7 linked regions of the Homo sapiens genome follow. The protein of the gene in region 2 interacts with the protein of the main gene of each other region in a biochemical or structural test. Each region holds a gene or a part of one and is shown on either strand. Other genes may lie near its edges.

Region 1 (3,500 bases), on a different chromosome or scaffold from region 2:
CAATGTGAAATAAGCATGTCATGGAGAATGGGGTACCCATCCCCTCAAGCATTTATCTTTTGAGTTATAAACAATCCATCTACACCGTTTAAGTTTGTATTTATTTTTTTTGGAGCCAGAGTCTCGCTCTGTTGCCCAGGGAATACAGTGGTACGATCTCGGCTCACTGCAACCTCCGCCTCCCGGGTTTAAGCAATTCTCCTGGCTCAGCCTCCCAAGGAGCTGGGATTACAGGCCCCCACCACCATGCCTGGCTAATTTTTGTATTTATAGTAGAGACACGGTTTCACTATGTTGTCCAGGCTGGTCTTGAACTCCTGACCTCAGGAGATCTGCCTACCTCGGCCTTCCAAAAGTGCTGGAATTACAGGTGTGAGCTACTGCACCTGGCCTAAGTTATTTTAAAATGGACAATTAAGTTATTATTGGCTATAGTCACCCTGTTGTGTTATCAAGCTCACAGACTTTTCCTCCGTGGAAGGGAATCTGCTCAGTTCTGCCCCAGCAGCACTTGGCCATGGGGTTTGGGAGGTCAGGGAGCCTGGAAACTTTGTCGGAGTTTGACTATTGCAGAAATGCCTCCCAGCCCACTGCCCAGGCATCAGGTCCCCACCCACTCTGGCCTCCTTCAGTGCCCAAGCTTGGTCCAGTCCTAACCCCTTCCAAATTAACCCCCTCAGGAGTGTCTCCTCCATCATGTACCCTAGCCTGATCCCCTGAATGGGCTTTTCTGACCCTGAGTAGACCAGCCTCTGTGGCCAGATACACACACTCGCATACACACAGGACTCAACTCCAGCTTCCCTACATCACCAAAGTCCAGATCTTCCAAAGCTGTGACTTTCTTCCTGTACCCACAACAGGCTCTGCTGCTATAACAAACAAACCCAACATTTTTTATTGTTGTTGTTTTTGAGACAGGGTCTAGCTCTGTTGCCCAGATTGGAGTGCAGTGGTACAATCATAGCTCACTACAGCCTCCAACTCCTGGGCTCAAGTGATCCTCCTGCCTCAGCCTCTCTAGTAGCTGGGACCACAGGTGTGCACCACCACACCTGGCTGATTAAGAAAAAAAAAAAAGACTGGGGAGATGAGGTCTTGCTATGTTGCCCAGGCTAGTCTCAAACTCCTGGCCTCAAGCAATTCTCCTGCCTCAGCCTCCCAAAGTGCTGGGATTATAGGTGTGAGCCACTGTGCCTGACCCAAAATCAACAACTTAGTGCGTTTGCACTACAGAAGTTTACTTTTCACCCACAGAGTCCTCTAGGGGGTCAGTAGACTTTCTAGGGTGGCTTGATGTCCATACGAGGTCTCAGCATTTCAGACTCCTCCATCTCTATGTGAAGCTTCAGGGTTCCCTATGGAAGAGGAAGAGAGCTTGGAAAATTGTGCATCTCCTCTTAGAACAGCACCTGTCCTCAATGCTCATTGGGCAGAACTAGGTACACTGCTCCTCCCTAAGGATGCTGGGAAATGTAGTCTAATGTGTGTCCAGGAAAGAGGGAAGACCTAGAAATATTGGTGAGTGCGAGTAATGCCTGCTACAATCCCAGATCACCTGCCATGGAGCCAAAGGTCTATCCCAGACTCCATCTAATCCCTGCAGAGTTGGAAGGGGGCACGTTCAGAGCTCCAAACAGGGCAGGATGCAAGAGAAGACCTGCCCAGGAGCAGGGCTGGGCAGCAACCCGCTGAGGGTAGAATCCGACAGGCTGCCCAGGCCAGCTGCAGTGTGTTTTCTGGCAAGGAGGAACGGGGAAGTGGAGGATTTTGGTTAGGGCTCGCTGGGCACCCACAAAAGCTGAGAGTGAATCTCCAAAAATGACTTCCTCTGGAAGATGAAGGGCCTCCGTGGAGCCCAGTTGGTTTTCTATCTTTTTTTTTTTTTTTTTGAGACAGAGTTTCGCTCTTGTTGCCCAGGCTGGAGTGCAATGGCGTGATCTTGGCTCACTGCAACCTCCGCCTCCTGGGTTCAAGCAATTCTCCTGCCTCAGCCTCCCAAGAAGCTGGGATTACAGGCATGTACCACCACGCCCGGCTAATTTTGTATTTTTTTTAGTAGAGACAGGCCAGGCTTGGTGGCTTGGCTGGGCACGGTGGCTCACACCTGTAATCCCAGCACTTTGGGAGGCCGAGGCAGGCAGGTCACCTGAGGTCAGGAGTTCAAGTAGAGATGGGGTTTCACCATGTTGGTCAAGCTAGTCGCAAACTCCTGACCTCAGGTGATCCACCTGCCTCTGCCTTCCAAAGTGCTGGGATTACAGGCATGAGCCACTGCGCCAGACTGGTTGGTTTTCAATCACCAGCCCTCCAGTTCTCGCCTGCGCTTTCTGCCTGCCCCAGTTTTTCCTCCTTGAAGTGGCTGATATTTAATAGAAAATCCATTAGTGTCCCGTGATGATACCTCATGCTTAGATGTAGGCTGAGAACATCTGGGTAATAACTGACACCGAAACCGCACTGTAGCACGGGCCCCAGGAGGGAGGAACTATTTTTTCCTCTTTCTTACATAAAACATCTCTGCAGCCAGCCATGTTCTCCTTTGAATTGAGGTTGCTGCTGACTTTGATTTCCAAACTGGCAACCTTCCCCAGCACGGCGCGTGCGTGGGGAGGGGGCGGCTGGTGCTGCCAGCCTGGCCCACTCACAGGGAGGGAAACAGTGGTGAGCTGGGGCCTGCAGGAAGTGCAATGCAAGGCTGCTTTTTGATTCAGTCCCATCCACATTCTCTGAGTGCCTAATATGTGCCAGGCGCTGTGCTTGGGGCTGGACAAGCATGAGACCCCGGATCATCACACCTGGGTGGGGGAGACAGACGGTTACACAGACTCATGGTGCATCTGTGCTAGGATTCAGACGTGTACAGAACGTGGCCTCTGACTGGAAACCCTCGAAGCTTCCCGCTACTTCTCCTCCCCTTTTGGAATCATCTAGAAAGCGGGTGGATATACAGTTCCAGAGTTCAAGAGCGAGCTCTCGGCTGAAGATCGAGGTCTGAGAGTCACTGTCTGGGGTTCTTCGCCAGAGCTGGGTCGTGGAGAGCCTCAAGTGCAATAGTGAACTGCAGTGGCAAAGGGCAGTGGTACAGAAACAGCACGTGTAGACGGCTCCAGACTACAGAAGGGAGGAGAATGAGCAGCTTTCAGGATCAAAGGAGGATTGTCTTTTATTTATTTATTTATGGAGACAGGGTCTTGATCTGTCACCCAGGCTGGAGCTCAGTGGTGTGATCATGGCTTACTGCAGCCTTGATTTCCCGGGCACAAGAGATCCTCCTACCTCGGCCTCCCAAGTATCTGGTAGCTGGGAATACAAGCGTGCACCACCATATCTGGCTAACTTTTTACTTTTTCTTTTCTTTCTTTTTTTTCTTTTGAGATGGAGTCTGTCTCTGTCACCCAGGCTGGAGTGCAGTGGCGCGATCTCGGCTTACTGCAAGCTCCGCCTCCCGGGTTCACACCATTCTCCTGCCTCAGCCTCCCGAGTAGCTGGGACTACAG
Region 2 (4,078 bases):
ACCAGGGGGGGCTCCGAGGCTCCAAGGGAACGGTGTCCAGGGAGTCAGGGCGGCCAGGTCCTGGGGTGCCTAGAGCGTCTCCAGCTGGGAACTAGACCGTCGCCTGCCTGGACCCTGTGTCCCTCAGCTGGAGTTCAGGGACCAGCACAGTGTCCCCACAGAGGGGCTCTGGGAACACCAGCTAGATGGGGCAGTGGGGCCCTGAGCACATCCCGCTCAAAAGCCCCATAATGAGAGGCCGGGGAAGCGGAACGCTGTCACCCCTGCATCTAATTCTGCCTCTGTGAGTCTTCATGACAACCTCCCAATAGTACATCCTTCAGGCCCCTCAAAATCCATGGCAGCAGGGCCTGGGGACCCCCTGAACAGGCGCCAGTGTCACAGAACCTGGGGCAGAAGTAGCCATGCAAGGGTGGAGGCCAAGGAGGGAACAGGTGGAGGGGTGTGGGGTCACCCAGGGCCAAAGGGGGAACAGGTGGAGGGGTGTGGGGTCACCCAGGGCCAAAGGGGGAACAGGTGGAGGGGTGTGGAGTCCCCCAGGGCAGTTCCTGAGACTCTTGCTGAGGCTGCCACCAGGCCAGCACGTGCCCCAGAAAACGGAGTTTGTGACGAAAACTGGAGTGGACTTGGACCCACCTTGTCGGGTAGGAGGCCCCTTGGGGCAGGATAGGGACCTGTGGGATGTGTGCAGAGCCCAAACCTCGCTGCGGGTGGGAGGCTGGGCTGCGCCGCCCCTGGCACCCTGGCCTCCACACTCGCCTTGGCTCTGGATGCCCAGCTCTGTGGCCCAGGATGCAGGAGGGTTGGGGTAGGGGGACAGGGACGCTTTCTGCACAGCCACAGGCCCTGTCTGTCTACACCGGCTGCGGCTGCCCTGCTGACTCACACTCAGACGGGTTCACGACAGGTGCACCTCGGTTCTGGCATATCTGGACTTGAGAATGTTAAATAAAGGATGGAAAATTCCTTCCAAATCCATTTTCTTGTGTATATTTCTGTTCCTGCAGCTTCTCCACGGATGGAGATTGTCTTTGGGAATAACACAGGGTCGTGCAGTCCGCCCGGCGGCGTTTTCGGGCGAGGGTCTGGTGCTGGGGAGCGAGCGCGGAGCGAGGTGTCTCTTTAAATACGCTCTGCAGTGTGACGGCGGCCGCCCGGCTGGAAGAGCCATCCCCACCCTGCGGCAGGAGCCCGCCCGCCGCCATCGCCCGCCCCGGTCCCCATGGTTACGCGCCTGCCTCCGGCCCCGGGTCCCCGCTGTCGCCGCGGGAGGTGCGCGCAGAGGCGGCGGCGCTGCTGGCCGGGCTGGGCCGCTCGTGCGCGGGGCTGTGACTCACCGGCCGGCGCCGCAGCCCCGCAATCTGTTGATAACTCGGTCCCAGCTCGGCCGCTGCCCTCGCGAATGGAGAGCGGGTCCCCGGCGGGGGGAGCGCAGCGCGTCTGTCTCCGGGAGCGCGGCCCGGCCGCCCCGGCAGCCGCTTCGGCCACAGCAGGTGGGAAGGACGCGCGGGTCTGGGCGGCGGGAGGGACGCGCGGGGCCGCGGCTCGGCAGAAAAGCTCGCGCCCCGAGGTGACACTGGCCGCGAGGAAAGCAGCTCCGAGTAACTTTCGGCTCCGCTGGGGCGGGAGGCGCCACGGATAATCCAGGGCCCCCGCCCCGCGCGCCCGGCCCGGAGCTCGAGCCACATCCAGGCAGAGCAGGCGCCGCGGCCGGGCTGGGGCGGGCGGGTCACTCGGTGCCGGTTCCCGGTGCAAACCCCCCGGCGCGCCTCTGGCTTTGTGCAGCCCGAGATGGTTGAGTTTGGCTCCGGAGCCGGGAGTGGGGCGCAGATTGATTTTTAAATATGGAGAAGGAGACGCATCTGCCGCTGGCGCGTTCGGTCCGAGCCCCCCACCGGTCCCCACCGGCACCGCCTCCGCCAGCCCCAGGCGCAGCCCCCAGGCCGCCCGCGGAGGGGAGGGAGCGACAGGGGCCGCGGCTGCTCCCTGGCGGGGTCGGGGCTGCGAGCTGCCCTCCGCGGGGACCCTCCGCCCGCCCCGCTGACCGCCGCTGTCTTCACAGATGGGAGCAGCTCCCGGACTGCGCCCGCCCCGCCGCGGTCACCCTGAGGCCAGGGGCCCGGGAGCGCGACCTCCTGGCCGCCGTCTGGGACTTTGACCTTCCAGAGGCCATGGAGGCTGGCGGGGAGCAGGGCGCCACCTGATCGCCTCCCCCTGGACGCCTCCTCCAGCGGCGCTCACGCTTCCGCAACTTTGCAGCGCTCATGGTGAGTACGGGGGTCCCGGGGGTCCTGCAGCTGGGGGCTAGGCCGCTGCGGGGGGGCGGCCACCCGTATGGGGACTCCCAGGCTGGAAAAGTTGTGGAATGGCGAGCTGGTGACCGGGCTTCCGGGCTCAGTGCCGGGGTGGGAGGCTCTGTGGAGTGGGGGCCGGGGACAGGCCGCGTGTCTGGGCACCTCTGCTCCCCGCGTGCTGGGTGCTGATCATACTAATGAGTTGCAGGCATATGGCAATGTGGAATCATTTAATCAATGGAGGCGACGTCCCTCCCGCAAAGCTGGCATCCGTGCCCTGTGAAAACCTGGTCTGTGCCTGGGCTGGGGTCCCTGCCACCCCAAGCCCCTCCACCCTGGTCACCGGCCTCCTCCACGCCACCCTGCCGGCCCCTTCCCATTAGAAAGTTGATGAAAGGCAGTGCGGACAGACGTAGGTGGGCTTCAGCAGTGGAGGCTGTGGCGGAGAGAAGGCGGCCGCGCACACGGCAGGCACGGGAAGGGTGTTTCAGCGGGAAGGGGCTCGTGGCTGGCAGCTGGCTGGATCGGCTAGCCGAGCCCATCGTGGGTCCCTCCCTGAGGCACCAGCAAGCTTTTGCTGCAGTTGCTGAATGTCTGGGTTCCGGAAGGGCTGACAGCTGAGTGAACAATGCATTGTGTGTGCTGGTAAGGGACAGCTGACAGGCGGTGAGGACCCAGGGCACGTGCAGAGAATGCCAATGGCCTCTAGAATGTGCGGCCGCCACAGACGCCGGCTGGCGTGCTTCGGAGCAGACCCAGTGTTCGCTGCATAAGGAGCCATCGGTCTGAGTCACTTGCTCATTTTCTTCTTGTTCCGTTCGAAATGTCCAAGCAAGAGAGATGCCTTTGCCAACATTCAGTATCGTCTTCCAGTGGCTGCTTCACCTCTGAGGCTGGCTGAGGTCTCCGCACTTACCTTTCAGACACCTGACAAGGTTGCGTCTCCAGCACCAGCAGCACCTCAGGGGGCAGCAGGCCAGCCCCAGGGCTCCTGCCTGCCCCCAGGCTCCCACCAGCCTCAGGAACCATCGCTGTTGCCCCGCAGGTACCACACCCAGCGCAGCCCCAGGCCTCCCAGTTGGCAGGATCTGTGGCTTTTCAGCCTCAAATTGAGACCCTTATTTGCAAAATGGAAAACTGTCATTGACAGAGGACAGTGAACGGAGAAGGGCTTCTGAAGGTGGGGGTGCTGCCGCAGCCCGGGGGTCCCTCTCATCCCCTTCCTCGCCTCCTCCTCTCTAACCCTTGGCCCTTCTGCGAACAACTGTGCGGGGGCCTCCCCAATCCAAGAAGGGCACCACCCCTCGCAGGCTGAGCCTGTTCGTGCACTCTCCTCTCAGCTCCTGGCTCCTGGTGGAGCTTCCTGCTACCACCTCCTCGGCCCGGGGCCACCCGGTCCCAGCCGGCCTGGCAGCCCAGAGCTCCTGCTCACCCAAGACTGTGAAAGCCTGCTGAGCTCGATCTGCCTGGAGAGTGTGGCATTTCAGCAGCTCACTGTTTTTATTCACAACAAGTAACATTTGCACCTGAGAAAATCTCTGAAAGTGTGAGGAGTTGCCCTCCCGTGCTGCATCAGTCTGGTGCAGCATTTTTCTGCATGTGTCTCCAAGTTCACAGCGTAGTGTGACAGCGTAATTCACAGCACGTGTCTCCAAGTTCACAGCGTAGATACCTGGGCAGGCTCACCCCATGGCCATGGGGTCTTGAGAAGGAAGCCTGGAGGCCGTGGCCAGGGCAGGGTGGCCCTGACTCTGCCTGCCCCACTGCTGTGCTCTGGGGGGCTC
Region 3 (3,500 bases), on a different chromosome or scaffold from region 2:
CTGCCTGGTGGCAGAGGCTGTACCATCCACCACCTGCACTTTGCCTTTGCACCCTGGGGAACCCGTTGGAAATGAGCACTATGAAAAGGTGGTGGCCGACCCTCTGCCAGTGTGTGCTGCCTGGAGGCTTCTAAGCCTGGGGCATCTGGAGAGGTGCTTTGGAGCAGGGTTGTGCAGCTCTCATGGATGGTTAATAAGTGCCGGCTGGAGAGGCTCTTTGAGGGGTTTTGTTCTGTGATTCCAAGTACTCACTTTGAAAACTGACCACAGGAGACTGAGGTCAGACTAGAGGGCGATTGGAAGCCGCTGGTGTGGTGTGCACAGGCCAGGCCGCACGTTTGTGATGTGAGCACTGTCTGAAAATGCTTTTGTTGTAAATGAAACCGAGGCCTTTGATGAGTCCGTGGGGGAAGCTGCGGCCGGCTCTGAGCTTCTTAGGATTTGACAAGGCCACTCGTTGCACCTTCCTCAGAGGAAGAGAAACAAAGGCTTTGCTCCTTTACTCCTTTATGGCCTGGCTCGATGGAACCTCAAGGCTCCATCTGCTTATGACCTGTACTGGGAACTCCGTGACCTGTTACAGCAAATTCACCTCTTCAGAAAGCCAGGCACAGCGAAAGCCTTTGCCGTGGTGAAGTGTCCGCAGTGGGCTATAGGAACAGGAGAAGGGCCAGCCACCCACCCCGCAGGGCAGACGTCCGCGTTGGGAACCCAGTCTCTGGTGTGCGAAGCTGTCGGAAGTATTTCTGAAGAGTTCAAGGTCCTCGGAGAAAGCACAGCTGCTGGCTGACCTGGGCTGGTTCTGGAGGAAGCGAGTGGTGGTCTGATTTCAGGACTCACCCATGACAGCTCTGGCGGGCAGTGAGAGGCTCCAGAGAAGATGACCCACGCCCCGGTGATATTAGAAAGAGGCCAGTTCGCAGTGTCAGCTTTGGAGGCTGGGGCGGTTCCACTGTTTAGTTTCCTAAGGGACAGTGTGGCTCCTTTTCTTTGGAGGGGTTCCCTGGTTGCTTTCTGTGGCCCTAGGCAGCCACCGTCCTTTCCAGAAGCCTTTTGCAGCGCCCGCAGCGTGACGAGTGAGTCAAGCCTGGACAGTGACAGTTGGCTGCTGCGGTGTTTAGTACTGACCCCGGTCGCAGTGGCAGGCGACCCGTGCTGTGTTCACTGGGACCTGGACCACTCTTTCCAGAGCTTTCCAGAAAATAGGCTTTCCTCCTGGCTCACTCGTCTGCCACCTTTGTCTTTGGTGAGAACATGAGCACGGAAGTGGGGTACAGTAATGGGGAGATGTGTGCGCAGTTTTCCAGTATTTTCCTGCCTTGCAGTCCAGCCTCACCTTTTCCAAATCGGAGACCTGCCTTCCTTTTTCTCTGCCCTCCTGCCCCCACAGAGGTTCTGGAGGGAGACTGAGAAACCATCTGGAACTCCTGGCCCTGGGCACGCTACGGACATTAGAAGTGTGATTGTATGACACGCCAACGCGTCCCAGGCTGTTTTCCCGTTTCCCCAGGAGACTGCATCTCTGTGGCCTGGAGCGCCGGGCACCCGCGGCCTGTGGTGGGCGGGACGCCTGCATTCCGGCCATGCCTGCACCGGCTCGAGAGGGGCCCTTTGTGCCCGCCGTGCTTGCGAGGCCACTCAGTGCTGCCATCCCAGGGAGTATCTCCTTCAAGCCAGGACGGGTCTCTTGCCCTGAGGGGTAGATTCTGGGGGTTTGTGTCTGGAATGTCTGATGGTCTATTCTGCCAACGTGGCTGCGATTCGCCTGTTTTCCTGGTTGCACTGTGTTTGTGACCCATTTCCCACGTCGCAGCCTGTGGGGTAGGAGACACGAGGTTTACGGAGAGGCGAAGCTTTGCCCTTGGGCTGCCCGCTGCTCTTCTGTGGCTGTGATGGTGCTGGGGCCGGCTCCGGGTGGGGCGCTCCTTGATGCTCACTGCACACGGGCGCTGCGCCCAGCACTTTCCAGAAATCCAAGCCCTGCAGCGGAGCGTGTCTTACTTAGGCGACCTCATTGTGTTTCCCAGTAATGGCTTTCCTTGAAGGGCGCTCCAGCCCGTTTAGTCCTCTCGGTCTCTGGTGGCCCTGCAGGCTCCAGCCACATCCTCTGCTCAGGTGCTCTGGTGTCAGGTCTGCGGGGCCAGGATGCCCACGGCCTGTTATGTCCATTAGATTTTGAGATGGGGTCTTGCTCTGCTGCCCGGGCTGGAGGGCCGTGGCACTATCATAGCTCACTGCAATCTTGAACTCCTGGGCTCAAGCCATCCTCCAGCCTCAGCCTTCAGAGCAGTGGGTACAGTGCACACCACCATGCCTGGCTAATTTTTAAATTTTTTGTAGAGCCGGGGCCTTACTATGTTTCCCAGGCTGGTCTGGAACTCCCGGGCTCAAGCCGTCCTCCCACCTTGGCCTTCTAAAGCGCTGGGATGACGGGCAGGAGTCACCGCCTGTGGCCTCATTTGCTCTTGGTGGTCACGATGGTTGGCGCTAACCTCTCTCACTTTTTCACCCAGGTCACGGCCTCCCCACATCCTTTGGCTGAAGCCCACAGTCCTCATCCATGAAGCCTCACCCACCATGTTTTATGGGACGCACTTCATCATGTCCCCGCCCACCAAGAGCAAACTGAAGCGGCAGAGCCAGCTGTTGTCCAGCATGCTGTCCCGGACGCTGAGCTACAAGTACCGGGACCTGGACTCCACCTTCTCCAGCCTGGGCGCCAGCGATGACCCCGCCGAGCTCTCCACCCAGCTGTCGGCCCCTGGTGTCCTGAAGGTGTTTGGGGACAGTGTCTGCACAGGAACCCACTACAAGAGCGTCCTGGCCACCGGCACCTCCAGCGCCCGTGAGCTGGTGAAGGAGGCGCTGGAGCGGTACGCCCTGGACCCCAGGCAGGCCGGCCAGTACGTGCTGTGTGACGTGGTGGGCCAAGCCGGCGATGCTGGGCAGCGGTGGCAGGCCCGGTGCTTTCGGGTGTTTGGGGACAGTGAGAAGCCCCTCTTGATCCAGGAATTATGGAAACCCCGAGAAGGTTTATCCCGGAGGTTTGAGCTGAGGAAGAGGTCGGACGTGGAGGAGCTGGCAGCCAAGGAGGTGGACACCATCACGGCAGGTGAGGGGGGCCACAGGTTCAGGAAGAGCCGTGGGTCTGAGCGCTGAGAAGGCCAGCCGAGGTAGGCGGAGAAGGAGTGGTGCAGGGGACATGCGTGGGGCGGGCTCGCTCTGCAGGAGGCAGTCGGAGCCCGTGTCCTGGATGTTTGAAGCCTTCCTCTTTTGTTCTCTGAGACAGGGTCTTGCTCTGTCACCCAGGCTGGAGTGCAGTGGTGCAACCACAGCTCACTGCAGCCTCCTGGGCTCAAGCGATCCTCCCACCTCAGCCTCCTGAGTAGCTAGGACTATAGGTGCACCACCACACCCAGCTAATTTTTTACTTTTTGTAGAGACAGGAGTCTCGCTGTGATACCCAGGATAGTCTTGACCTCCTGCCCTCAAGCGATCCT
Region 4 (3,121 bases), on a different chromosome or scaffold from region 2:
CTTTTTTTAGATTGTTTTAAAACGCTCTGGTTCCACCTTGAAGCTGATAATCTTTCTGAAAAATATATGAGAAACTCAGAAAGTAGTCATTATTATAATAAATTTAATTTTCTTAGGGAAAAAGGGCAGGGTTCTGGATGGAAACCCCTTTGGAAATTCTTATTTAAACTTTTGAATGAATCTTTAATATGATTCAGGCTGAGATTATGATACCTGCCCTTGTCTTATTTCAAGAGGTTTGCTGTGAGAATTCATGTAATAACATCTGTAATGTATTTGGAATTTTTGGGAGAAATTCATTCTTTTAAATAATGGGATTATTGTATATAGTACAAATGAATACTCACAAAATTTAAGAATACATTTGACTAATAATTGAGCATCTTGTCAGTTTTTATGCAAGCATATATTGTATACCTGAGGAAGATGACAGTTCTATAATTTTTTTAAGGTAAGGTTATTTTTAAATTGCATTTTTGTTCTAACGTTTTGCAATTTATATTCTTTTTAAAATATTTCCCATAATTCATCATGCTAGCTTCTGTGTTCTTGGAATAGTTTTTGAAAAATGCAGAGATTCGAACATGAGTCCTTAATATACTAAACAGTGAAAGAATGATGATATCTCATTTCTAAAGTAAGCATGGTTCACACCACTTTGGCAATACACTGCAGTACTTTTTAAAAAATATTCTCTAGTGATAAAAGTAAAGACAGGGTACTGGCCAAGATCCTAATTCTGACTTCTGACTGTGTGATCTTCGATGAAATTTATATTTCCCTTTATCATTACTATTCTACTTGTTAAGTAAGGCTAAGTTAATATTTGTCTTCGCCTTAAATTCTGATTTGTAATTTGTAACTCTGATGTGGTAGCTGTGATATGGTGAACTGAAAAATCCTTATTAGGCTACTTTATCTGTTCTCTTTTAGTTATTTTAAAGTGTACCTGTTTCTGAAGTAATGTAGTGAATGGTGAATACTTTTCAGGAATTCTTCCAGTTTTAAAATAGCCCCAAAGATACAGTTTCAGCTGGTGGAAGGTCTGTTCTGCTCTCTTAGTCCTAATCAGAAAGTCCCTTTTATCTTATAATCCCATACTAAATCCAAACCCTTAGCAAATCCTTGCTGCCAACCAGACCACTCACAAATCAAACAAAATGTAAGCAAGCAATCCAGTACTCGGTTACACCAGAAGACTCTGATCTTTGCCCCCGAAAACTGTCCTACTTTATCCTTATACCTGAAATCACTGCATACCTGAAATCACTGCAGCCCTACTGTTTTACCCATACCATTAATTTAAAAAGGCATCTATTTCTTTATAGAAAGAAACATTCACAGTGAGGTCTTAGTTTGTGAACCTCAAAATCCAGATATTAATCCACTTTAGTTATTACTTTGTAATTGCTTCTCAGTCATTGGCTGATAATGCAATGGTGTGATAAATTTGACTTATCTCCACATACAAAAGTCGATCAGAAGGGATAGTTCTCTTCCTTTTTTTCCCCTCCTACTGGCTCTTACTGTTTTCTAATCTCCAGTGTAAATGGAATGAACACATCTATAGTTAAGGTAAATGCCACCAATCAGAAGATTGAGTGATTTACTGCTTGTAAAGCAACTGTCTTTGAATCTTATGAAATAGGTGGTGTTGCTACCACAGAAGCCAAAAAGGTCTTAAAATTGGAAATAGATGTCTTTATTGTACTTCAGCCAACAGCAAGCCAGGGGAAGGAACATACATAAATATGACAGGTCATATATGAAATTTGGCTCTCCTCCTATCAAAGTAGCCTAGGAGCTTGGAGGAAGCCTAATTAACTAAAACAGGAAAAAAGCATACTCATCTGATGTAAAAACTCATCAGCTGTAAATTACCAACATTAAACCAGAAGTCATTACCAGTTAAAATGTGTGGTTTTCATCTTATTCTTAAATAGGAGAGGTGGACAGTAGTGTAAGTAACATTGCTTTAAAGACATAAAGCTTGTCCTGGTAAACATGGTCTAAATGAGAAATGCCTCCATCTTTTCAGGTAGAACCAGATTTCAGGCATAGCTCAGCTACATCTGTATTTGAAATACAATAAAAATATTTCTTATGTCTCTGTATTCTCTTTTAAAAAGAACTGCTGACTGGCTCCTGTCTCTTCAGTAACACTGATTTTTTTTTAAAGAAGTGATATGTTGGACTCTGTTGTAGAAGAATGAGCACTAGTATTCAGCAACAAGTGCAATTTCTCCATGTTATGTTGAGCTCTGTTGGAGCCTATGGTGAGTATTTGATGTGAAAACCTTGCTGTGGGAATTTTTTATTCTTCCTTTTCCCCCCACGCCAGTTCGTTTTGGTAAGTCTTTTATTTGAACACAAGACGCATGCTTTTTTAAACCTCTAGTTTTTGAAGTAACTGTAGAAGAGAATCTTTAAAAAAAAAAATGGAGGGCAGAATGCTTGTTAGCAATCTGAAAATCAAAGCTGAACAAGCTGCTTAAAGTTTCTGATTAAGAAGTTTAAAAAGAAAAATTAATTGCTACTGCTTTCCAGGTAATTGTATTATTAGTTTCTGTATAAAAGAAACATTATTGCTGTTGTATAAATAAAATTTTCCTGTGGTACAATTAAGTATTGATTTTTCAGAAACTGTCCCTATAAATCTTTTCACATATTTCCATGTGCTGTCCAAAACAAAAATTATTGAAATGTCTAATCTGTGAGATTATATACTCCTGGTAAAATATTTTTGTATATATAAAGAAATATTTACTATTGGAAAAAAGTGTTTCATTTATAGGTAGAACTAAGGTTTAGAGATAATAATGGAGGATATCTGATTAGCGTTGATAATTTTTTTTAACTGTTTGCATTTTTTAACTTTTAGGTTTGGGGGCACATGTGAAGGTTTTGTTACATAGGTAAACACGTGTCACAGGGGTTTATTGTACATATTATTTCATCATCCAGATACTGAACCTGGTACCCAATAGTTATCTCTTCTGCTCCTCCCCCTCCTCCCACCCCCCACTCCAGTAGACCCCAGTGTCTGTTGTTTCCTTCTTTGTGTTTATAAGATACTATCATTTAGCTCCCACTTAGAAGTGAGAACATGCAGTATTTGGTT
Region 5 (3,500 bases), on a different chromosome or scaffold from region 2:
TCAAGTTTTAGTTACTTCAGTTCATGACTTTAGAAACGTCAATATTCTAAAACATCATCACTAACTAAAACCAGCAGTCCCCTTTCCGCATTTTGCTGAGTCGTGAACTGTCATGCCTGTCTGGGAAAAGCTGATTGGCATTGTGTGCACTTGTGGTAACCATGGAAACATCAGACACAGTGGTGATACATGAACCAGCCCCAGTCCCACAGCTGTACTTACTGTCATAGGTCTTATTAAATAGGTATCTATGTAGTCAGAGCATGTTTCATAGAAATGGAGTGTTCATTAAACTGAAACTTCATACATTGCCTCTGGGCTTTTGGGGATAGGAGTATGATACCTCCCAACTTGAAATTCCCACAGATAGGTGAGGTCATAGTCATCGGGTGATACTTAATGAGCCCATGTTTTTCTTTCATTGGATGTAAACTATGCTCGGTGAGTGCTTTTGAGGGCTGCATTAGTGGTGCTTTAATGTACCAAGTGGGATGCAATCCACCATTCTTCTTTCATGTTCCTTTTTGTGGAACTGCTGTTGACTCTCTCTCACTCTTGAGTAAGGTACATACACTGAGGCTTCCATTGCTTGGGGCTGCCCTCAGCCCCTAGGAGACAGGCCTAGTGGAGGAGAGGCAGCCCATAAGCACAGAGGGTCTGTCTGCTGCCTGCCAGAGCACCATCCTACACACTTGCCTTGTGAACAGATGGCCAAGGAGTCTGGCTGGCCTGCCCCCACCATGGATCTGAGTGGTCCTCACCACTCAGGCAAGCATAGGCAGTTGTCTGTCCTCAAGAGAAGGACCCTAGGGGACAGAACACTCCACAGTATGTCCCTAGGGCTGGTGCGTAGAGAACATTTAGAGTTTTCCTAAAGCTCTGACTTTCTGCCACTGCCCTTCCTGAACCTCAGAGTGGGCTCTTAAGCGTTAGCTTTCAAGTGCTTTGGGGTGTTTTTCTTTGCTTGGGATGAATAAATTGTCTCATGGTTTTTAGTGCTTGCTGGTTGAAACTTGTAATGGTCCACAAAGTCTTTACAGGTTTTCCATTGCAAAAATCCATCTAGAACGATGGGATTTATATGCTTAAAAGTCAAGTCAATTTACCTAATAAAGGAAAAACGGGAATTATCTGAGCCCATCTGAAGCTCTCAAGCTCTGGGTCAGTGACATCTAAGAAAGCAGGACACCTGTATCAAGAACAGATATGACTTAGAATGAAGAATGAAACCATTGCTTTGCTTCTGTTATTTTCTTTGCACTTGATGCAAATGTTAATTGTGATCAGCTCTGAACTTAAATGTGTCCTTGTCCTGTCACTTGGACAGTTTGAGGAAAAGGCAGAGAGAGACAGGCTGGGCTGCGAGGGCCCAAGGGAGAGGGCTGGCATGGAGGCCCATACGTGCACCTTTGGCAGAGCCCCATGGCAGCTTGGGCAGGAAGGGCATCTCTAACAGTCTCCTTCCCCCTTAGATAGTGACGAGAGGCTGCGAGACTGTGGAAATGACCCTGAGGAGGAACGGGCTGGGCCAGCTTGGCTTCCATGTGAATTTTGAAGGAATTGTCGCAGATGTGGAACCTTTTGGCTTTGCCTGGAAGGCTGGCCTTCGCCAAGGGAGCCGCCTCGTGGAGATCTGCAAAGTAGCCGTGGCCACTCTGACCCACGAGCAGATGATCGACCTGCTCCGTACTTCTGTGACTGTGAAGGTGGTCATCATCCAGCCCCATGATGACGGCTCGCCCCGAAGGTAAGGCGTGGGAGGCCCAAGTAATGCTCACTCCTCCTTTGCCTCTGTAGCAGGTGGCTGTCCTCAGTGCTCCTGCAAGGTCCTCAGAAAATGCAGTCAAGTGTGTCTTTGTACAGTGTTCTGGGATGTCACTCATTTGTACAATGTTGTTGGGATGTCACTCGTTCGAGGAATTGAAAAGGAGCTTTAAAATATGTAATAGATGATAAAAAATAATTTGCTAAGCATTTTAATGGAACATTGACTACATTAAAGCTGAGCTATTCTGAACTAAGGGGAAGAGCACCTGCCTGGTTCCCCTGGACCTCTTATATCTAAGAGGAAATAATTCTGTATCACAGCTCAGCCTTGAGCACATTAAATACTTAACTATTCAGTTAGAATTTCTTCCCATAACATGAAGCCATTGATTATTTAAAAAATATTTAACAGACCAATAGTTGTAGGTATGAAAGAATGTTGGAACAGCACAGGTACTCTCTGTGGTAAATACTCCATTCTCAATTGAAGCTTGAGAGATGTTGAACTGGTTCAGGGCGTTATCATAAACTGTCAGGAGAAATAGATGAAAAGGAACGGCTAGACTTGGAAGGTTCAGAGGCGGATAGGTGGAGGGCTGGGATAAGAACGGGGTTAGAAAGCAATACTATTACATTACTAATAGAAAATAATCATGCCCAACATAAAATATTAGGCCAAAAGGAGAAAGAATGCTAATTAAGAAGGAGCCGTTTATTGAGGCTGTGGCCCACTACTTGTGTTAATGCATGACTGGTGGTAGTATCTAGAGCACCTTCCCTCTATCTTCATTCCCAAATGGAGTTCGTACAGGCAGCCTTAAGAGCTCTGGCTTTTGAGAGACAAAGTATGCTTGGAATCCAGGAATTTGCTGTGTGGCCTGGGGCAACTCACACACTCTCTCTAAGTCTCACTTACTCTCTGTAAGATGGGATTATTATATCGCCTACCTCCTATGATTTCAATGAAGATGAAATAAAGTAACACATGTAAAGCACTTAGAACCTTCTAGCATAATTGCCCCACACATTTAATTTAGAAAAATAAAACTTTAGGGGCTGGGCGCTATGGCTCACACCTGTAATCCCAGCACTTTGGGAGGTCGAGGTGGGCAGATCGCTTGAGCCCAGGAGTTTGAGAGCAGCCTGGACAACATGGCAAAACCCCATCTCTTCAAAAAATACAAAAATTAGCCAGGTGCAGTAGTGTGCACCTGTAGTCCCAGCTACTCAGAAGGGGAAGGTAGGAGGATCCCTTGAGCCTGGGAGGTCGAGGCTGCACTGAGCTGAGATCGTGCCTCTGTACGCCAGCATGGGTGGCAGAGTGAGACTGCATCTCAAATAATAATAATAAATAAAACTTTAGCATATTCATTTTAATTTCTTTCATATGAAAAAATAAATTCTGATTATCCAAAGATAGTAGGATTGTTGGGTCTACTTTCTGGACTTACTAACCTAGGTCATACTCTCTCCTTTCTCTGTTTCCTTTCTTCCTCCTTTAAGCCAGCACTCTCCATTAGCACTTTCTACAGTGATCTGTGTCTGTACCGTTCAGAGCAGTAGCCACAAACCACATGTGGCTATTACGTACATGAACTGTAGTGCAACTTAGGAAACGAATTTTTCCTTTTAATTAATTTACATTTAATTGGCCACGTGTTGCTAGTGGCTGCCATATTGGATAGATCAGCTAAACCATGATCTCCTTTTAGGAAAAAAAGCCACTTACACTG
Region 6 (3,500 bases), on a different chromosome or scaffold from region 2:
GGGCTGGCATGGAGTAGGTCCTGGTCGCTGGCCTTGGGGTGAAGTAGAGATGGTCCTCCCCCGAGGGGCCCCCTGGAATGCTGTTTCTGGGCACCCCTCGGGAGTCTGACATCAGGCTTGATTTTCCCTGGGAGTATTCTGCCTTTCTAATGGCTGTTTGAAGGGAGGAGGAGGAGGACGCCAGTTTTGCCATGCTGAATGATCGTGACATTTCCTGCTCTGCCTGGGAGGCATGAGATGGGAGTGAGGATGGATGACTTGTGGATGATTCTGCGACCTGGCGATAGAGCCTGATTTCACTCTTCTCCTGACAGTTGCCCTGGGCCAAGCACCCTCCCCGTCTGTCGCTTTCAGCTGGCTTGTTACCACATACAGTCTCTGACACTGCTTCAGCAGAAATCTCCACGATTTTCAGCTGGTTTGTTCTTTCGAGGCGATCGCTGGCCATTATGTTGCCTCCTTTTTCGCCAGTCGGCCTGGGTTGGGCTGTGTCTGCTGCCACATGGCTGGCCAGGCGCGGCTCACTCTGTCTGTTCCCTGCCACGGACATGCCGTTCCTAGACGCTGCCGGACTCACCGGCCCGGAGTCAGCACGGGGCGCCCTGCCCTCTGCTCTACACTTAGGAGATTTAGGGGTGGTTGGGCAACCTCTGTCGGGTTCAGAGAGGACAGCCATGTGGAACCTGCTCCACATGCCTTGCTCAGGAACAGGCTTGGGAGAGGTCAGGGGCGAGACAAATGTCCTGATGCTCGTGTCAGACACTGAGGGTTTCAGTGGCCCAGAGGTGGCAAGAGGTGGCTTGCTTTCCAGCACACACTGGGGGGACCTGGGGGCAGCTGTGGTGTTTCTGTCAGGGTCCTCGTGGTCGGCTACATGGAGCCGCTGTGACACTGCCTTAGAAAGTGTTTTGTGGGAGGTCTGGGGTGAGATCAAGGGTTTCCTGTGGTCCGTCCCCCCAGCCTTCACAGCATTCGCAGCAGGGGCCTCAGAGTTGACTTTGGCCTTGCCCTTGAGGCTGAGCCTCTTCAGCTTCGGACCACACTTTGCCTTCTGACCATTAGTCAGAAGCATTTCTGCCGGACTCTTCTTAGACAGGTCCTTATTTTCCAGGTTTGTTTTCGGCTGAGGAGGGCTATGAGGCACAGTAACGCCCTTTTTTTGGCTTGAACTCACCATCTGAATCTTGGAGTCGGGACTTCTGGCAGGCATTAGAGGTTGTTCCTTCTCGGTTTTGCTCCTCAAATGTGTGCCTTGGTTATGTTTATTTATTTCTTTAAACCAGGCCATGATGGGCCTCCTAGCGATCATTTTTGGTTTCTGTAGCAAGTCATCCAGGTCTTGACTTTCAGAGATGTGGAGGTTTTCCAAAACAGATTCTCCATTCTTAGGGACATCCACACTGAAGGAGGACAGACTGGCAGCTGCATTAATGCTTGTTTCGTATTGATTCAGGGTTTCGTCATCTAGCAGGTCATGTTCCAAGCCATTTACCATGTTGGGGGAGCTGAGAATGATGGGCGGACTGTGAAAATGCCTGGCTACTTTAGACAGCGGACTGTTTTCCATGGCTGAGCTAGCGCTGGTGACTTCTGTGGTTTCTTCTGCACACGAGGGCCTGTGGTTCTGTGAAGTGCTTATGTCCGCATGAGTTTCATGCTCCTGAGAGCTCATCTCCAAGAGTGATGATGGCTGGGAAGAGTCTGGGCCTGAAGTGTATGAGCCTGGCAAGCAGGCGGCCTTCTCACGGGGACTGGCCACCGACTCTCTCGGAGTGCTGTATTTTAATGACAGAACTTTGGCTGAGGCAGGACAGATGGCAGCCTGGGTGGGAAGATGAGCAGGACTCGAGGGTGGATTGGGGCAGCCACGTGTGGAACAAATCTCAATCTGTTCCTCTTCTGACTCCGAAGGATCTTCCTTGTGCAAAGACACACGGGAACGAGGAGGGGACCAGCCGTCCCTGGCAGAAGCTCGTGGGGCTTCAGTGAGTGACTCAGGGTCAGAAGAAGAATCCTCAGCATCGCCATACATGGATGACAGAGACGGCTCCGTGCTGTCACCCAGGCCTGATAGGGAGGTGCTGTCTTCATGAAAACTGCTAAAATTTCTAGAGTAGTTGCTCAGAAAGTTTTTGTTCACAGTAAAATGTTTGTCGGGATTAATTGAATCTAAAACCGAAGGCTGGGAGGCCCATTGTGGGTAGGCGGGGGCACCAGCAGCCCAGGCCCTCCTCGGGGAGGAGGTCTGGCCCCCCGGGACTGGTTCGGCACGGCAGGAGCTCCCACCTCCAGCCCCGGCTGGTGGGTGGCCCTGAGCACTGCCCTCCTGAGAGCCACTGTCCCCCGTCTGGGAAGACGGAGACCTTGCTGCAGAAGCATCCAGCTCCTTGATGAAGCTGTCAATGTCCGTCACAGGGCTCTCTCTACTCCCCCCTGGGCAGCAGTGCCCCGAGACATGGCCACATGCTTCTTTGGTGTTGTCAGTGGATGGCAGCATGGAGAGGCTGGCCTGCGGTGCCCTTGAGGACACAGAATCTGCTCCCTCCAGCAGGGAAGGCTCCTGGGAGCTTTCAGGTGCATGGATTCCTGTCATTTCCAGAGCCTTACTGTGGTTACCTGGAGCTCCCTGTCTCTGCTCCTGGGATGTGAGGGGGTCTCCTGGCAGGACAGCACCAGCTGGTGTCATTCCCTCTGCTCCAGGTCCCGCTCCCCTGAGGGCAGCCACCCTCCTGGTATTGTGGGGTGTGCTGGTTTCCGATGCTGATCGAGTCTTGCTGTAGTCAGGGGGAGCCGCTGCTTTCTCCCCCGGGGAGGGGCTGCCCTCATGGGGGAGCCTGACTGGAGACCTGGCCTTGCACTTGGTGACCCTGGGCGATGCAGGCTGGCTGGGATTCTCTGGCCGACTGACTTGCCCTGTGTCTACAGAGGTCTTGCTGGGGTCAGGATGAGCGGCCCCCTTCTTCCCTGGGGAAGAGATGAGGTCTGAGGAGCTGTCCAGTTCTACGTGGGGAACGTAAACAGAAGGTACATACACAGGAGAGGTTGTAGGGGAGATAAAAGGGATAATATAAGAAAGCAGCCCCTCAATTATTAAAAACTAGAAAATTATAAACAACCTCAAATATTTTTTTCTTTTTCAGAAAGCTGGGCGTGGTGGCGCATGCTTGTAATCCCAGCACTTTGGGAGGCGGAGGCGGGTGGATCACCTGAGGTCAGGAGTTCGAGACCAGCCTGGCCAACATGGTGAAACCCCATCTCTACTAAAAAAAAAAAAAAAAAAAAAAAAATTAGCTGGGCATGGGGGTGGGCACCTGTAATCCCAGCTACTTGGGAGGCTGAGGCAGGAGAATTGCTTGAACCTGGGAGGTGGAGGTTGCAGTGAGCCGAGAATGTGCCATTGCACTGCAGCCTGGGCAAAAAGAGCGAAACTCCGTCTCAGAAAACAACAACAACAACAACAACAACAAAACGGCGTTCTGTGGCCTAAATGGAGGCCCTTC
Region 7 (3,500 bases), on a different chromosome or scaffold from region 2:
TATGGATAGTGCTGCAGTGAACACATGCATGCATGTGTCTTTAATGTTTTTTTAATGCTTTGTCTAGTGCATGACACACAGTGGTCAGTAAGTGTTCATTAAATGACTGAGCAAACTGATAGATATCATAATAATATAATGGAATGTTTTTATATTTATTTATTTATGACATAGGGTCTTACTTTGTCACCGAGGCTGGAGTGCAGTGGCACGATCTTGGCTCACTGCAGCCTTGACCTCCTGAGTACAAGTGATCCTCTTGTCTCAGCCCCTCAAGTAGCTGGGACTACAGGTGTGTGTCACCACACCTGATTAATGTTTTTATTAGCCATATTTTTCATAGAGACGGGGTTTCACCATGTTGCCCAGGCTGGTCTCCAACTCCTGAGCTCAAGTTATTCACCCACCTCGGCCTCCTAAAGTGCTGGGATTACAGGCGTGAGCCACCACACCCAATGTACTTATTTATTTTTGAGACAGGGTCTTGCTCTGTCCCCCAGTCTGGAGTACAGTGGCACTATGACAGTTCACTGCAGCCTCGACCTCTTGGGCTCAGGTGGTCCTCCTGCCTCAGCTTCCTGAGTAGCTGGGACTACAGACATGCACCACCACACTTGACTAATTTTTTTTTTTTTTAATTATTTGTAGAGACGAGATCTCACTATGTTGCCCAGTCATGCCTTGGACTCCTGGGCTCAAGTGATCCTCCACCTCAGCCTCCCACAGTGCTGCGATTCCAGGCATGAGCCACTGTGCCTGCCATAATGGGATGTTTTAAATAAAGAGAAGCAGTAACATGATCTGTTTCAGCTTTCAAAAAGTGGTAAACATGGTTCTTCACTAAATACAATTTGAGAAAGAGAGAATGAGGATGGACACATTGTATTATGATGGATAGGAAACTGGCTAAGATATCAGAAACAAGGAGAAGGAGTAGATGGAACACCTCTTGGAGAGAGTCAGGTAAATGGAACAGTTCTCTAAAGATTGCTTCAAGGATCAGTATTAAGATCTTTTCAAAACAATACTAAAGAAAAACTGTACAGTAAAATATCTAGGAATTACTTTGGGGAAATAGAAAGGCAAGCTGATAGATGTTCAACTGCAGAAACATTTTGCGAAGCCATGTGACTAGCCAGAAAAGTGGTCAATGATTACATGTGATAAGTACACAATTATTTATTGAGGGAAAAATAGCCAAACTATACTTAGATGATAGGGTCAGAACTGCTGGTTTCAGAAGACTGAAAAGTAAAGTAAAACTATTTTTTAAAATTTATTTAGCATTTATTATGTGCCTACACTATGATTAGGAATCATGGACACTAGAATAAAGAATAAGAAATGATCCCCATTTTTAAGAATTTTGCAGTTCAAGCCAGGCATTGTGGCTCTTGCCTGTAATCCGAGCACTTTGGGAGATCAAGGAGGAGGACTGCTTGAGGCCAGAAGTTCAAGACCAGCCTGGGCAACATAGCAAGACTCCCATCTCTGCCAACAAAACAAAGCAAAACAAAACAAAACATTAGCTGTGTTTGGTGGTGCATGCTTGTAGTCCTAGCTACTTGGGAGGCTGAAGTGGAAGAATTGCTTGAGCCCAGGAGTTCGAGGTTGTTGTAGTCCTAGCTACTTGGGAGGCTGAGGCAGGAGAATTGCTTGAACCTAGGAGGTGAAGGTTGCAGTGACCTGAGATCGTACCACTGCATTCCAGCCTGGGCGATACAGCGAGACTCAGTCTCAAAAAAGAAAAAGTGCCAGAATGCTTGAGTTCAAATCCTTACTCTATCACTCACTCACTGTGTGACCTTGTGCAAGTCACCTCACTTCTATCTGCCCCAGTTTCCTCAGCTATAATATGAGAGTATTATTAGAATCTACTTATAGAGTTGTGAGGATTCAATGATTTTTTTTTTTTTTGAGACGGAGTTTTGTTCTTGTTGCCCAGGCTGGAGTGCAGTGGCGCAGTCTCAGCACACTGCAACCTCTGCCTCCCGGGTTCAAGCGATTCTCCCGCCTCAGCCTCCCAAGTAGCTGGGATTACAGGCGCCCGCTACCACACCTGGCTAATTTTTCTGTATTTTTAGTAGAGATGGGGTTTCACCATGTTGGCCAGGCTGGTTTCTAACTCCTGATCTCAGGTGATCCACCCATCTCGGCCTCCCAAAGTGTTGGGATTACAGGTATAAGCCACCACGCCTGTCCGATTTTTGTTTTATAAATAATTTGTAGTGACGATTCTGTACTGTCTTAAGCACTTTACCACAAAACAACTCATTTAATTCATTGAAGTGCTTTAAGGATACTGCTATGTGGGGAGTAGACTTTATGGGGCAAGAATTGAGTCATCTAGGAAGGGTAGGGTAAGCTGTGTCAGTAATTTCAGGGATATGGGGCTTCTGTTTCTCTTTTTCCCTCCTTTTATGCCTTAGTTTATAAAAAAACCCTATTACTGCAATAGTCCTTCCCCCTCCTCCAAAAAAAAAAAAAACCTGTTAGAAGCTCCCAGAAACATTTTTAACCTTGTGAGATTTCCCTAGAACTGGAAATGTTAGAAATTCCTGACCTAGGTGTAATTTTCAATTCCAATAATAGTCAATTGACACCAGTTGGGCTTTGTGTATGTACTAGGTACTATATTGGCACAGGAGGTACAAAAATGAATATAAGCTAATTACATTGTCTTCTAGGAACGAATATTGCAATAGGGTAATGAGACAATTAAACAAGTAATTTCATGTTTTCAGGCAAAGGGAAGAAGACATCCAAAGTCACGGAGATAAGCAGTAGCTGTGGGCGGGGATGATAGGGTGAAAAGCGATAGCAAATATTAAATTTTGTTTACTGTATAATGCAAAGTAGAGAATGTCCAAAGATGGCTAGAAAGGTAGATTATGGTGATTTTGAGTTTAAACTTCATCTTCTATGTTTTTTTTTTTACTTTGATTTTATCTTGGGGATATACTTAGAATTTATTTAAAAATCATTTTATCATATTTGCATAGGAAATAGTAGAAAAAGTCTACTGTAAGGAGGATACTATAACAAATTTTTTTTTTGCTTAATTAACACAAAATTGGTGCTTTGAGAAACTTTAGCCTTTTATTATTGACTAAGTTGGTGCAGAAGTAATTGTGGTTTTTGCCATTTTTTTTTTTTTTTTTGAGACGGAGTCTCGCTCTGTTGCCCAGGCTGGAGTGCAGTGGCACAATCTCGGCTCACTGCAAGCTCCGCCTCCCAGGAGATCACGCCATTCTCCTGCCTCAGCCTCCCAAGTAGCTGGGACTACAGGCGCCTGCCACTATGCCTGGCTAATTTTTTGTATTTTTAGTAGAGACATGGTTTCACCATGTTAGTCAGGATGGTTGTGATCTTCTGACTTCATGATCCACCTGCCTCGGCCTCCCAAAGTGCTAGGAGTACAGGTGTGAGCCACCGCACCTGGCCGGTTTTTGCCATTTTTTATAGCAAAAACTGCAATTACTTTTGCACCAACCTAATAA

Evidence for each region.
Region 1: the proteins of ADGRA1 (region 2) and GRID2IP interact in a test that uses a peptide from one of them, tested with the Homo sapiens proteins (one large-scale study listed by IntAct).
Region 3: the proteins of ADGRA1 (region 2) and RADIL interact in a test that uses a peptide from one of them, tested with the Homo sapiens proteins (one large-scale study listed by IntAct).
Region 4: the proteins of ADGRA1 (region 2) and PALS2 interact in a test that uses a peptide from one of them, tested with the Homo sapiens proteins (one large-scale study listed by IntAct).
Region 5: the proteins of ADGRA1 (region 2) and SIPA1L2 interact in a test that uses a peptide from one of them, tested with the Homo sapiens proteins (one large-scale study listed by IntAct).
Region 6: the proteins of ADGRA1 (region 2) and PDZD2 interact in a test that uses a peptide from one of them, tested with the Homo sapiens proteins (one large-scale study listed by IntAct).
Region 7: the proteins of ADGRA1 (region 2) and SYNJ2BP interact in a test that uses a peptide from one of them, tested with the Homo sapiens proteins (one large-scale study listed by IntAct).

Annotation. Positions count from the first base shown.
Region 1 is NC_000007.14:6,544,962-6,548,461, reverse strand, and holds part of GRID2IP (delphilin), read left to right. Parts: intron 1-3,500.
Region 2 is NC_000010.11:133,086,646-133,090,723, forward strand, and holds the start of ADGRA1 (adhesion G protein-coupled receptor A1), read left to right. Parts: upstream 1-1,278; 5' UTR 1,279-1,493; intron 1,494-2,062; 5' UTR 2,063-2,264; coding exon 2,265-2,267; intron 2,268-4,078.
Region 3 is NC_000007.14:4,877,217-4,880,716, reverse strand, and holds part of RADIL (ras-associating and dilute domain-containing protein), read left to right. Parts: intron 1-2,513; 5' UTR 2,514-2,577; coding exon 2,578-3,112; intron 3,113-3,500. UniProt on the Homo sapiens protein: Downstream effector of Rap required for cell adhesion and migration of neural crest precursors during development.
Region 4 is NC_000007.14:24,691,573-24,694,693, forward strand, and holds the end of PALS2 (protein PALS2), read left to right. Parts: 3' UTR 1-2,621; downstream 2,622-3,121.
Region 5 is NC_000001.11:232,459,134-232,462,633, reverse strand, and holds part of SIPA1L2 (signal-induced proliferation-associated 1-like protein 2), read left to right. Parts: intron 1-1,472; coding exon 1,473-1,747; intron 1,748-3,500.
Region 6 is NC_000005.10:32,086,631-32,090,130, reverse strand, and holds part of PDZD2 (PDZ domain-containing protein 2), read right to left. Parts: intron 3,001-3,500; coding exon 1-3,000.
Region 7 is NC_000014.9:70,407,091-70,410,590, reverse strand, and holds part of SYNJ2BP (synaptojanin-2-binding protein), read left to right. Parts: intron 1-3,500. UniProt on the Homo sapiens protein: Regulates endocytosis of activin type 2 receptor kinases through the Ral/RALBP1-dependent pathway and may be involved in suppression of activin-induced signal transduction.